Regions from separate parts of the Homo sapiens genome. Here all the other regions are linked to region 1. The links come from fine-mapping of genetic effects on gene expression. A gene starts in region 1. Each other region holds a variant in brackets. All regions are shown on one strand. Distances are between the middles of the regions.

Region 1 (2,764 bases):
ATTTCCATTTTTTCACTACTCAAGACTACATCCTTGCATGAAAATCTTTGCTTGACTCCGTTTCCTTAAATTCCTGAAAAAGGAATTACTGTCATAGAGCATAAACATTGTGAAGGTTTTTGGATCTTTTTTTCCAAATTGCCTTCCAGAAAGTTTGTAATAATTTACATTCCTGCCTTCTCATTCCTGCATCAACACTTTAATTTTTCCCAACATTTCAAAATTTTGTTAGAAAAGTTAAATCTTACTGTTTCATATTTTATTACCAATAAAGTTGATTATTTTTTCATATGTTTCTTGCCTGTCTGTAGTTCTTCTTTTGGAACGCTTAGTCCATACCATTAGTCTAATTTTTCTATCAGTGTGTTGGATTTTTTCTTTATTTGTAAGAGCTCTTTATGTATAAGGCTGTTGGCCGAATCTAGTGGCTCAGCCTGTAATCCCAAAACTTTAGGACTCAGAGGCAAGGCAGGAGGATCCCTTGAACCCAGGTGTTCGAGACCAGCGTAGGCAACAGAGTGAGACCCTATCTCAAAACCAACAAACAATTTATCTTATGTTGCAAATATTTTTCTTCATATGCCTTTAAACTTTATATATTTTTTTAATTCAATGAGGATTTACACTTTCATACAGGTAGATTGATTTATGTTCTCCTTTGTGGTTTATTCCCTCACTTATGTGTTTACAAAGGCCTTCCTTCACCCAAGTTAAGGTAAATATTCAGCATATTTCCTTGCTGTGGTTAAGAGATGTGAGAAGATACTATGAGAGACTCACTATGTTCACAACTTTTTCCAGTTAAATGAAGTCTTCCCACGTTTCCTAATCACTCACATTAAGCATATAGAATGGATTAATTTTAAATCTGAATATAAAACTAATTGCACAGCATGTTTCACTGCTCTTCTTACTGCCTACCTGGGGCACAGTCTCTTTGGCCTGAGTGGTCTCTTCAGTTTTTAACGAGTGGCTCCACAATTCCTTAGGAAGAGCTGCTCTCTTCTGTCTCCCTGGTGGTCGTAATTTCGCCCACACCTGCCCCGTCTTTGCTCTGCAGCTCCACACTCCCTCAGCCCCGCCGAGAGCTCCTGGCTCCCGTCTCCAGGTTACCCCAGGTCACCACAGCCACCTCTCTGCACCAGCGGCCCGCTCACGTACCCAGCTCCAGGAGCTCCTTCACGATGGCTTTTCCGATGCCCGTGGCCCCGCCGGTGACGATGGCCACTTGGCCCTGCAGCAAACCAGGCGCCAGGTAGCTCCTGCCCTTAGCCCAGGAGGCCATCCCTGCAGCGGGGTGCCAGAGCAGCTGAGCGCAGGCCCTTCTGGGTCTCAGGGACATTCGAGGCGGGCGGGCGGACAGGGCGGTGCTCGAGCCCACGTGACCACCAGAACCCCGCACCCTCCCCGGCCCGGCCCCGCCCCGCCCGCCGGCCGCGGCAAAGCCGCATCCTCCCGGAGCAGAACCGCTCCCCGCCGGCTGTCCGCAACCTCCGCCAGCGTCGGTCCCTGGGCAGGTGTGGGTGAGACTGCTCGTTCGTTTCTTTAAATTTCGATGCCATTGGGGAGGGTGGAAGGGAAATGCAAAAAAAAAAAAAGAAGAAGAAAGAAACAAGCAGGGTGTGCTCTATTTCAAAAATTCAATCCTCAGGGCTGAAGCTCTCACGATTAATTAAAATTAAATCTCCAGTGCAGCTGGAAAAAGAAAGGCTGCTGCTCGGCGCCCTCGCTGCGCCCGCCTGCCGGGGTCGGACGTCGGCGATGCTGTGGCTCCAGGTGCTGTGTGCCGCTGGCTGGGAAGGGGAGAAAGGGCAGGCTTAGCTGAGGGGGAGAAATGCGGCTTTCAGATCCTTTCATCCTTCGGGAGGGAGCCCGGGAAAGAGAGTGAAGGGGAAGAGGAGATGCGGTTGCAGTTTTCCACAGAACCAAGAGAATAAACGATTTGAAAAAATAAACTCAGGCCCACCTCCGTCTCACCTCCCACTCCCCACCCAAGAATCAAGGGGAAAGATCATCTTTACCAGGTTTGAGACCTGATCCATTTCAGCTGAGCTGCATAGCGAGTCCAGAAGAGGATCTTTCCTTGAAGGGTGCACGCTTCCTGCAAGATGCATCTGTAGGTGTTTGAGATCATGTCCTGTAGTTCATTCCTTGTGCAGGAGGGTGAGCCCGCTGAGGATGGGGAAAATTTCTCGTCTGTGTTATGGTGCCCAGTAACAGTGATTTATTATTCAGATCTGCTCCTTATTTTTCATCTTGCTTCCCGCTCTGAACCCACCAGAGTGAGATTACACCTGGACTGGCCTACTGAGACTTCACCCTAAGAACTTGGTCGAATGTGCCAGTTGCTGTGGTCTTAACAATCCAGATGGGATGCTATTTCTAAGGCTGTTGTCAGAGTGTTGCATTTTCCCCGGACAGGTATTAAAATAATATAAAGGCAAATAAATGCCATCATCCTTTTGTTGGACCTACCACCTAGGATTCACAAAGCCAATTGGAAATGGGTCTGGTTGACAGAGGAATCAGACCATCACTTCCTCCACCAGGTCCCACCCACCAGCGAGGCTGCAGTTCTTGTTGGACAGCTACACTTCCCTGTTGCTCCATCCTCTTGTCCTTCTCTGATCTCTTTTTAGAATCACTTCTCCCTCTATCTTTGTTGCTGACAGATTCAAATCTACACTCGTTAAAGAAAGGAATAAATCTCCTGGTTACCATTTGCTAGATAGTTTATCCAGGAATCACTTAACTCTACTACTTA
Region 2 (2,764 bases), 52 kb before region 1:
ATAGATTTCCAGTAATTGTGTATTTATTTAATTCCATTTTTTCTCACTGTACTCTAGATATTTTCTCAAACATACTTGGATTTTGGGAATTCGAATTTGTATAGTGTTAAGGTAATGCATATTTGAATTTATCTTGCTGTTTGAGAAATTTGAATTCTACCAATTACAGACAATTCTGTAATTGTCTATAACAACAGTAGGAATTGCACACTTAAAATCATTAAAATGGCAAAATTTATGTTATATATATTAGTTACACCACAATAAAGAAAAAGAACATAAAAAGGAAGAAAAAAATAAGGCTTTTTCTCTGAGAGAGAAAAAGAGAGACACAGTTTTGGTTTTCCCCCCATTGGAATATGGAGTTAAGTGCAGACCACTCAAGATACACAAATTTCTGACCAGAGCACTTACAAGTAGCAATTCCAAAATAAATACCAGTACAATAAAAAAGATGTTATATTCATCTTTATTTATTTATTTAAAAGGAAATAAATAATTTCCTGTAAAATAAAAGGATGAAAGCAGCTTGATGGCAGCAGATGTAAAGAAGGATTGAGGCTGGCCAGGCGTGGTGGCTCACGCCTGTAATCCCAGCACTTTGGGAGGCTGAGGCAGGCAGATCACGAGGTCAAGAGATTGAGACCATCGTCGCCAACATGGTGAAACCCTGTCTCTATTAAAAATACAAAAATTAGCTGGGCGTGGTGGCGCGCTTCTGTAGTCCCAGCTACTCAGGAGGCTGAGGCAGGCGAATTGCTTGAACCTGGGAGGTAGAGGTTGCAGTGAGCTGAGATCACGCCACTGCACTCCGCCTGGCGAGAGAGTGAGACTCCATCTCAAAAGAAGGATTGAGGCTGCTGAGTTAGGACGACAAAGGCAAAATGATAAACACAAGGCAGAAGGTGCTTATGCACCTCCCCCTGCCTCCAGGCTGGCCCTTGGGCTTGAAGAACTAGAAACACAAACTTGTTATCCCTCTTTCCAGAGTTCTCAAAATACAAGGATGCTAAGTCATGCTCACAAACTCGCCAGAAGCTGAAATACACAGCCTAGACTAACACAAAACTCCCAGCATGGCTGAAAATGCCTAGGGCCAGAATAGTCCAGTATTTCCCTTCAGGCAAAGTTGCACAGCAAATCAAAGTTTTAGATTTGTTTTTGACAGGGATTCAGAGGAAAAGGAGATGGTTTAATGAATTTAGCTCTGAGAGTCTCATGCATCATTTTACAAGAGAGGAATGTGCATGCCAAGCAAACCAAATGTTTGTAGCCTATGGCTGAGTCGTATCTCTTATGGCCTGTGGTCGGTGCACATGCTCATGGTGGTCACATGGGCTTCTCATATGCTATCATGGTGGACCAGTCTCCCACTGTGAGCCCCATCTTTGTGTTCACATTCATATTTTCAACCACCTTAAAATTACTGCTTGCTCTGAAATGACAGGTTAAAAGGTTATAAAGAAGATTTAGGTTTCAAATTTGTTCTAAAATACTTATAAATCAAGGGGGACAGATAGACAAATTTGTAAAAATATAGATTATTGGGGGTGATGGGTACTATTACACTATTCTCTTTAGCCTGTGTTTGAGAAATTCCATTAAAAATTTTCAAAAT[A/T]ATCTCTTCATTGTCCTTGGTGCTGGTCTGTCTCTCTCAGTACAGGGCAGGGGTCGGGGCTCTGAAGCCAAACTCCTTTGGTTCCAATGCCACTTCTGCCATGTGCTGAGATCTTGAACAAGTTTCTTGACCTGTTCATGCCAGTTTCCTCAACTGTAAAATGCTGGTAATAATGAAACTACCTCACAGAGTTTTTGTAAGGCTAAAATGAGATAATGCATGGAAAGGGCTTAGCAGTGTCAGGCATATAGTAATCACCTAATAAATGCTAGCTATTGTTACCCAAAATATTTTGCAATTTTTTTTTTTGAGACGGGGTCTCGCCCTGTCACCCAAGCTGGAGTGTAGTGGCACAATCTCAGCTCACTGCAACCTCCGCCCCCAGGTTCAAGCGATTCTTGTGCCTCAGCCTGCTAAGTAGCTGGGATTATTAGCATGCACCACCACAACTGGCTAATTTTTGTATTTCTTTCTTTCTTTTTTTTTTTTTAGTAGAGAGAAGGTTTCACCATGTTGGCCAGGCTGGTCTTGAACTCTTGACCTCAGGTGATCTGCCTGCCTTGGCCTTCCAAAGTGCTAGGATTACAGATGTTTTGATTCCATAGTTTAATTAATTCTGTGGGCAATTTATTTCGGCATTCCAATTTGAACACACAAGCCCACTATGAGGCCCATTCTCTCTCTCTCTCTCTCTCTCTCTCTCTCACACACACACACACACACACACACACACACACACACACTCTGTCCCTGCTCTCTCTCTCTCATTTGCTTGCTCATCAAAACATCTGCTCTGTATCTCACTGAAATATCTGTCTTCTGTTTCATTCCTCCAAGTAAAATGGTAACAACGCGTTAGAAAGAGTTGCATAGGCCAGACATGGTGGTTCACGCCTATAATCCCAGCAGTTTGGGAGGCTGAGGCAGGCAGATCACCTGAGGTCAGGAGTTCGAGACCAGCCTGGCCAACACGGTGAAACCTCATCTCTACTAAAAATACAAAAATTAGCTGGGCATGGTGGTGGGCGCCTGTAAACCCAGCTACTTGGGAGGCTGAGACAGGAGAATTGCTTCAAGCCAAGAGGCAGAGGTTGCAGTGAGCTGAGATTGTACCACTGCACTGCAGCCTGGGCAACAGAGTGAGAA
Region 3 (2,764 bases), 44 kb before region 1:
AACAACCAAGACCCAGCTGAAGGGCCAGGATGGAGTGCTTGCTGTCTTCAAAGATGCATGTCCCCAGTAGGTTTGGGACCATGTCTGGGATCCGGTAGATGAAACTGGGAGTGGCCCTGCATTCCATCATTCCCAATGATCTGCTGCAGGATTTAAGGAGAATAGCAGCACTGGAAATCCTGGTGCCAAAGAGGGAGGCTCTTGCCAGGGGACATAAGGTCCCAGTGAGCTACAAACTATGACTGATGCTGGAACTGATCTCTGAACTCCCTTTGTCCAGGCACCAGCAGGAGGAGAGAGAGTTACTTTTACACTGTAGAGAATCCACATGACCCACTGAGCGCCTGCTGGTATTCCTGTGGGCCACTGTAAATGTCAATGCATACTTTCAGCAAGCCTGTCTTAAGAAAGCATCACTTTGCTGCAATCTGAGATGCCTCCTGCCCAATCCTCTCTCCCCTCTCTTTTACAGGGGTCAGCCTTGCAGCATGGTCTGAAGGCCATCGCTGCCTTCTCTGGCTCCCTGCCCTTATCCTTCATGGGCCTGGTACCCAATAAGTGTCATGCAAATCTCATTATGTCTGGGCACCTGCTTTTCAGAGGACCTGAACATAAGCCACAAAGCATAAGATTAGTGTGGGGGAGGTATAATGTTCACAAGGGTCATCTTTATCAACAAACTCTTTTTACATAAATATAGAATTTTCATTTTGTTTCCTGTCTTTCAGTTATATGCCGTGGACATCATGGCCTTATCCTTTATAGCACTCGTGTTCTCTCTCTTTCTCTCAATCTCTCCCTACTGTAAGCTCAGTAAGGACAAGATACATGTGTATTTTTTCACCATTGCATGTCTGACTCCTAGCATAATGCTAAATACATAGTAGGTGCTCCAAATTATTAAGCCTATTCAAGAACAGTCACTCTACAACAAAATTTACTAAGCGTAGTTGCAAAAGTACATTATTGACAGGATACTATTATGATGTACATAAGAGTCCTGGATAATAAATTCATAATTCTAAAAATATAGATAATGACCAGCTGTCCAGTGATAGTCTAAGAAGAAGCTCTAATAAGCAGTTGTACCTAAGTTTAGTGCTACATAGGCAGGTTCTGTCCCTTAAGCAGAAATAACTGGCAACGCTATGGAGATTTAAGGAGTCGATGGCAGTCATTAACACAGGTCATGTGAAAGCAAGCCCTGCCTTTTCCATCTTCTCCACCAACCTGTATTAGGGCCACTTTTCCCTCTAACATGGTTTGTAATTCTCAGTTGTTATGATATTATCAGTTCCAGAAGGCCACTGTTAAAGGGCTATCTGGGAGGAAAATGAAGCTTTCTGATCTTCCCACATTATTAGTATGAGCACAAAATTGAAGGACACACTCACTCTCAGGGGCAATTCTGCACTGGCACAAACCTGACAATGGAGAATAGCTCCTTAAATGCTGCACCCTGGGCACCTCATTAGCCTCTCCCT[C/T]GTGCTAGCCCTGCTTGGGAGCATGAGAAAGCTGCAGATTCTGGGTCCCAAACCCCAGAGCTTGGTAACTCACACACTTTAAAATGAGGGTAAATGACAGGCCGGGCGTGGTGGCTCTCACCTGTAATCCCAGCAATTTGGGAGGCCAAAGCGGGCAGATCACTTAAGGTCAGGAGATCAAGACCAGCCTGGCCAATATGGTGAAACACCATCTCTACTAAAAATACAAAAATTGGCCGGGCGTGGTGGTGCACACCTGTCATCCCAGCTACGCAGGAGGCTGAAGCAGCAGAATCACTTGAACCCAGGAGGTGGAGGTTGTGGTGAGCCGAGATTATGCTACTGCACTCCAGCCTGGGTGACAGAGTGAGACTCCATCTTAAAAATAAATAAATAAATAAATAAATAAAGTGAGTGTTAATGATAAAAAAAAGAAAATAGCTACTTCACCTCAGATACTTGAAAGAACTTTGATTAAGACAAAGAATGAACATATTCAATCTGCTAAAGGCATTTCTTCAATAAGGGTCTAACTATCAGACTGGAGCCACGGAAGGCAGAATATGGAACCCTAATACATTTGCATGCAACTGAAATTTTGTTTTTGCCTACAAAAGGAGATACATGGAAAAAAGGGAATACTTTGGACAGAAAATCAAGACACAAATCAGGCACTGCCAAAAATAAATCACATAAAACTTTTTCTTTGAATTAAGAGAATTTATACAAATTTGACTTCATAAACAAAAGAAACTATACATCAATAATTACCATAAGGCATTATTGCTCCTAAAGTATTTGCCACCAAAAATAAGTCATTGTATAATTCTAATTTTAATAATCTTAATTACGACACAATTTAGGTTTATTTTCTACCTTTATAATTTTGTTGTTGTTGTTTGTTTTTGTTTTTTGGGTTTTTTTTGAGATGCAGTCTCACTCTGTAGCCCAGGCTGGACTGCAGTAGCATGATCTCAGCTCACTGCAACCTCTGCTTCCTGGGTTCAAGCGATCCTCCTGCCTCAGCCTCCCAAGTACCTGGGACTACAGGTGTGTGCCACCACACCCGACTAATTTGTGTTTTTGTTTTTGTTGTTTTTCAGTAGAGACAGGGTTTTACCATGTTGGCCAGCCTGGTCTTGAACTCCTGACCTCAACTGACCCGCCTACCTCGGCCTCCCAAAGTGCTGGAATTACAGGCGTGAGCCACTGCGTCTGGCCTCTACCTTTACAATTAAATAATAAAATCTTCTGGGAGTTCATGATCCCTAGAATTATCA

Alleles and levels. Positions count from the first base shown, and alleles are read on the strand shown. Sizes are in standard deviations (SD) of each study's normalised expression. Not every link is listed here.
In carriers of allele T in region 3, the expression in thyroid of the gene that starts at base 1,353 in region 1 tends to be lower than with C alone (small effect, 0.26 SD a copy in GTEx).

The links.
Region 2: its variant is fine-mapped to the expression of PECR in whole blood (TOPMed, PIP above 0.99).
Region 3: its variant is fine-mapped to the expression of PECR in thyroid (GTEx, PIP above 0.99). The same link has a PIP of 0.9 or more in whole blood.

What each region holds. Positions count from the first base shown.
Region 1 is chr2:216,080,457-216,083,220 of GRCh38, forward strand. PECR (peroxisomal trans-2-enoyl-CoA reductase) reads right to left here and starts at 1,353. Exons shown (of 8, transcript NM_018441.6): 1 at 1,162-1,353. The coding sequence starts at 1,285. TMEM169 (transmembrane protein 169) reads left to right here and starts at 1,463. Exons shown (of 3, transcript NM_001142311.2): 1 at 1,463-1,523. RefSeq lists enhancers at 955-1,034, 1,065-1,114 and a silencer at 1,305-1,564.
Region 2 is chr2:216,028,635-216,031,398 of GRCh38, forward strand. It overlaps a transcript of MREG not described here and a transcript of PECR not described here. Among named protein-coding and RNA genes, the nearest start is that of MREG, 16 kb to the left of the region's middle. The variant A/T (reference allele first, on the strand shown) is at 1,619.
Region 3 is chr2:216,036,220-216,038,983 of GRCh38, forward strand. It overlaps PECR (peroxisomal trans-2-enoyl-CoA reductase), which reads right to left. Exons shown (of 8, transcript NM_018441.6): 8 at 2,169-2,764. Among named protein-coding and RNA genes, the nearest start is that of MREG, 24 kb to the left of the region's middle. The variant C/T (reference allele first, on the strand shown) is at 1,485.